Linked DNA regions of Homo sapiens. The protein of the gene in region 2 interacts with the protein of the main gene of each other region in a pairwise test. Each region holds a gene or a part of one and is shown on either strand. Other genes may lie near its edges.

Region 1 (2,514 bases), on a different chromosome or scaffold from region 2:
TTTAATACTCTCACAGCTTTGTGTTTATTCTCTTTGCTCATGGAATAGCAGAACAAGATAAACATGGGTTAAGACATTTAGGAGAACCTGCTGTATCTAACCCAGTTGGATTTTCTTTCATGCTTAACACAGTAGTGAAAATAGAAGGTAGGCCGGGCACAGTGGCTCATGCCTGTAATCCCAGCACTTTGGGAGGCTGAGGCAGGTAGATCACCTGAAGTTAGGAGTTCGAGACCAGCCTGGCCAACATGGCGAAACCCTGTCTCTACCACAAATACAGAAAATTAGCTGGGCGTGGTGGCAGGCGCCTGTAATGCCTGCTACTTGGGAGCCTGAGGCAGAAGAATTGCTTGAAGCTGGGAAGCAGAGGTTGCAGTGAGCCGAGATCGCACCACTGCACTCCAGCCTGGGCAGCAGAGCAAGTAGTAATAACCACCGTGTAGACAAGTGGGAGGGAAGAATAGAATGGCACTGTCCAGCTCTGGGCTAGCCAGATCAACTCCCCCACCCGTCTTCTTCCTCTGTCCCAGAATGGAAAATGATGTATGGTCAGTCACGCTGAAGTATAGCAGCGACTGTGTTAAGAGAGAGCAGTGACTCTCTCTTCTAGAGAAGAGGTTTTCAATAACAGGGCTTGGAAATGAACTAGAATAGGAAATAGATCTTTTCAGATGCTGCTTTCCCATGTAATACAAGCGTTTCTACAGGGTACCAGAGGTGTGAAATATGTGACACTTAAGAACAGTGATTTTTATTGGGAATTTTCTTAGGGTTATTACACTTAAAGCAACAACCAACTAGTAACAGCTCCAGGAAAGGGGAATGAATCAACTCTTGGTTCTTTCCTGAAGACGGCAGTGTTGTGGATAAGTGAGTTTTTAATGCCCTGGCAGTGGCTACATTTGACACTTTAGAAAAAATAAACATATTTAATAATTTTTGTTTCTCCTTAGGAATAAGACTGTAGAACTGTTTTGTACTGTGAATTACGGATGCTCTTTGAAGGAAAGAAATATCGATTCTAATGTTCTTCAGAAGTTCTGGCAGGGATAAGCAGGACATCGACTGGAACGTATGCTAAATGAAAGCAGACAAATTTCTATTTTCTTACCTGAGCAAATATTTTATTGAAACTGCTTATGTATGTCAAAGGAGCCCACAACTTCAGCTACACAACTTTTTGTATTGAAAGAACTCATACTTTTTGTAGCTTTTATTTCACATTTAATTTAAAGTGACTTTTAGCACTAAAATGCCTAGAAGATTTTACTCCAGACCTATAAGGAAATGTTTAGTTTTTATGAAAAATGACAAGTCGATGGTTAAACTTCTCATGTCTTTGGTGCTTTGGCCCTAATAGCACTGGACAACACCACGACCACATGGAAACATATTTTTGGAAGCAAAACTTTAATTTTATATAACGTATGCTATGGAGAGCTAAGACAATTTAAGGACTACTTGTTTTCTATTTTTTTTCTTAATAAAATGGAATCCACTGTGTTGAAGACTCTTGATATCATGTGCTTGTCTAACCATTTTTTGTTTTATAAATTAGAATAAAATATAGTTGTGATAATGGTCATCGAATGGATTTGTTTGGAAAGCTACATCTTATTTGTGAAATGTTTTTTAAATCAGAGTAACTATCAACTGATTCAGCTTTTTGTTGTTTTGTTCTTGGCTATAATACTTGTGACTCATGAAGAATTATGTTGACAAACAGGATAAATTCCACATGCATTTTATTTCCCAGTGAGTTGTATAAACTTTATTTTTGTTGAAGGTTGTATGTTAAATCAATGTTACATTCTTATATCACTTCTTGAGAAGGAAGTTCCGATTTGAAATTGTATCATTTCCTTCAAAATGAAGGGCAGTGCTTAGTTAAATAAAAGATTGATGATATCTTTTAAGCCATTTCCTCTTCACTATGTCTTATTAAAATAAAACCTGTCAAGTTCTTTTCAAAAGATGCTATGAGCGTTTCCAATAAACCATCTATTAGAGTTCACTGGATTTTTTTCCACTTGAATACCTTTTTTCTGACATTTTTGGTCCAAATTCAAGCTACTCAGTTTCCTATAATTTCTCTGAGAATATTAGCGTGCATCACCTTTGTATTGCACAGTAAACATTTTGTTGAATTCATTTAGTGACTGAAAACCCTGCATCTACTTTGTGAAAATCAGTTATTGCTGAACTATCAGTGTTCATGAAAAATGACTTATGAACATAAATTTTCAATACATAGTGATTTTTCAGAATCCATGCAAAAATTGTTGGAAACCACACTCATTATGGAGTCTACACTGGGCAGTCTGTTTAGTAGCCCACCGGGAATCTGTGTTGCATCTTAAGTGGCTTCAGAGTTCCAGATGAAGGGAACGTATTTGCCACATAATTACAGAAAATGGGTGAACATAGTGGCACGGCACTGTTGGCATAAGGGATGCAGGTGCCAGTGGTTGGTAAGAGAACAGATGTGGCATCAGACTGGTGTGTGGGATGCCA
Region 2 (3,500 bases):
AGGCAGAAGTTGCAGTGAGCCAAAATCGTGCCAGTGCACTCTAGCCTGGGTGACACAGTGAGACCCTGTTTCAAAACAAACAAACAAACAAACAAATAAACCAAAAGTATTTTGAAATAATTAGATTTATAGATAGCTGCAAATAAGGCCAGGTGCGGTGGCTCACACCTGTAATCCCAGCACTTTAGGGGGCCGAGGCGGGCTGATCACCTGAGGTCAGGAGCTCGAGACCAGCCTGGCCAACATGGTGAAACCTCATGTCTACTAAAAATACAAAACTTAGCTGGAACTGGTGATGGGCACCTGTAATCCCAGCTACTAGCAGGCTGAAGCAGGAGAATCACTTGAACCTGGGAGGCGGAGGCTGCAGCAAGCCGAGATCACGCCACTGCACTCCAGCCTGGGTGACAAAGTGAGACTCCTCAAAAAAAAAAAAAAAAAAGCTGGGCACAATATGGTGAAACCCTGTCTCTACTAAAAATACAAAAATTAGCTGGGCATGGTGGTGCATGCCTGTAGTCCCAGCTACTCGGGAGGCGGAGGCAGAAGAATAGCTTGAACCTGGGGGCGGAAGTGGCAGTGAGCCAAGATCATGCCACTGCACTCCAGCCGGGGTGACATAGCAAGACCCCATCTCAAAAAAAAAAAAAAAAAAAAAAGCTGGGCACAGTGGCTCATGCCTGTAATCCCAGCACTTTGGGAGGCCGAGGTGGATGGATCAGGAGGTCAGGACTTTGAGACCAGCCTGGCCAAGACGGTGAAATCCCGTCTCTACTAAAAATACAAAAATTAGCCAGGCACGGTGGCGGGTGCCTGTCATTGCAGCTACTCAGGAGACTGAGGCAGGAGAACTGCTCAAACCTGGGAGTCAGTGGTTGCAATGAGCCGAGATTGTGCCACTGCATTCTAGCCTGGGCAACAGAGCAAGACTCTGTCTTTAAAAAACAAACAAACAAACCAACAACAACAAAAAAAAACATACGAAATTTCTATGCACCTAGCCTTCTGCAGTGTTAACCTCTTGCATAATGATAGTATAGCACTGATATTAGAAAACTGACATTGGGGGCCAGGCATGATGGCTCACGCCTGTAAGCCCAGCACTTTGGGAGGCTGAGGCGGGTAGATCATCTGAGGTCAGGAGTTCGAGACCAACCTAGCCAACGTGGTGAAACCTCATCTCTACTAAAAATACAAAAATTAGCTGGGCATGGTGGCACTTGCCTGTAGTCCCAGCTACTTGGGAGGCTGAGGCAGGAGAATCACTTGAACCCAGGAGGCGGAGGTTGCAGTGAGCTGAGATTATGCCACTGCACTCCAGCCTGGGTAACAGAGTGAGACTCTGTCTCAAAAAAAAGGGAAAGAAAACTGACATTGGGCCAGGCAAGGTGGCTCAAGCCTATAATCCCAGCACTTTGGGAGGCTGAGGCAGGAGGATGGCTTGAGCTCAGGATTTTGAGACCAGCCTGGGCAACATAATGAGTGATGCCCCGACTCAAAAAAAAAAAAAAAAAAAAAAAAAATTAGCCAGGTGGTAAATGATCATAGTCCTAGCTTGGGGAGACTGAGGCTAGAAGATCACTTGAGCCCAGGAAGCAGAGGTTGCAGTGAGCTGAGACCATGCCACTGCACTCCAGCCTGGGTGACAGAGTGAGACCCTGTCTCGAAAAATAAATAATAAGGTCAAAAGCTTTATAGTTTTCCCTGAAGTCCTGAAGATTAGTGTGTACACAATGAGTAGTATTCAAACATGGAATGTTTTAACCAGTCATCAGGTTTTCAACCCTGTGGTAGAGTAGGTTATAATTACAGTTACCTCCTTAAGCAAAAGGAGCTTACTCTCTTAACACAATATTAAATGGAGACTAAATTATTTAATTTGCAGATAAGTTTAGTATTTTATAAATAAGGTCCTACCTTGCAGCAGTCTTACCTCTTCAATGTGGATACTTCCTTTATCTCTCTTTGTTTTTGAGACAGAGTTTTGCTCGTCACCCAGGCTGGAGTGCAGTGGCACAATCTTGGCTCACAGCAACCTCCGTCTTCCGGGTTCAAGTGATTCTCCTGCCTCTGCCTCCCGAGTAGGCATGTGCACCTACAGGGATTACAGGCATGTGCCACCATGCCCAACTAATTTTGTATTTTTAATAGGTTTCTCCATGTTGGCTGGGCTGGTCTCGAACTCCCAGCCTCAGGTGATCTGCCCACCTCAGCCTCCCAAAGTGCTGAGATTACAGGCATAAGCCACTGCACCTGGCCTTCCTCTATCTCTTTATCATTATCTAACAAGGAAATGCTACACAAATATTTCAGTTTTGTTTTATAACCTGGAAGCTTTCCTAACTAGAGTTCACAACACAGGATAAAGGATTACTACACCTTGAAGTAGTTTGTCAAGCTCTTTGGAGCCAGTAGTAATCTGTATGATCTCTGACCGCCTTTGGTGGAATTCAGTTGCAGTGGTGAAACCCATTGGAACTAATTTAGCTGCCTCAGCCTGGGAAAAATAAGAAATATTAAATCAACAAAATAATATTCCTTACCACAGTGATCTTGATGGCAAAAAAATATATATAAAGAAAAAAGAAATATTAGTAAAACAAGGTGTGCAATGGGAAGAGAAAATATCAAATAAAATTACCAGGATGATTTCTCTTTAGAAAGTCATAAAAAAGGATAATCTAATTCAGAGATTCCATGAAGATCAATTTTTAAATTGCCAATTCAAGTTAATATATTAATATAGTTTTAAAAACTATTATAGATCCGGCCGGGTGCGATGGCTCACGCCTGTAATCCCAGCACTTTGGAAGGCCAAGGCAGGCGGATCACAACGTCAGGAGATCGAGACCATCCTGGCTAACATGGTGAAACCCCATCTCTACTAAAAAAATACAAAAAATTAGTCGGGCGTGGTGGCGGGTGCCTGAAGTCCCAGCTACTTGGTAGGCTGAGGCAGGAGAAAGGCGTGAACCCGGGAGGCGGAGCTTGCAGTGAGCCGAGATCGCGCCACTGTACTCCAGCCTGGGGGACAGAGCGAGACTCTGTCTCAAAAAACAAAACAAAACAAAACAAAAAACTATTAGAGATCCGTACATATGTGTTTTGCCCAATTTATGACAAAAATGACAATACAGTACACCTTCATTTCCTGCTCCATCAACCGCAGACTGTATCCCTTAACTTCCTACTTTGTAAAAATGAGGACATTTGCCCTTCAATCTTTTCTCTCTCCATGGCTACTTCCCCACCTCTATCAGCTGTACCTTTTCTTTCATATTGTCTGGCTGAGAACATTCACATTCTATTTTGTAATTACAGATAAGTGTTCTGTAATAGCACTATGGGTTGATTCTAAAATTGAAAAGTAAGTGCATTCACAAATATGCAAAAATAAAGCAACACACTCCTAAATAAGCAACAAGTCAAAGAAGAAATGACAAGGGAAATCAGAAAATGTTTTTGCAATGAATGAAAACGAAGATATACCAAAACGTATG

What was found. The genes of interacting proteins can lie anywhere in the genome.
Region 1: the proteins of RAD51 (region 2) and LRATD2 interact in binary tests that used the Homo sapiens proteins (3 or more experiments, as listed by UniProt).

Annotation. Positions count from the first base shown.
Region 1 is NC_000008.11:126,551,943-126,554,456, reverse strand, and holds the end of LRATD2 (protein LRATD2), read left to right. Parts: 3' UTR 1-2,014; downstream 2,015-2,514.
Region 2 is NC_000015.10:40,705,174-40,708,673, reverse strand, and holds part of RAD51 (DNA repair protein RAD51 homolog 1), read right to left. Parts: intron 2,498-3,500; coding exon 2,380-2,497; intron 1-2,379.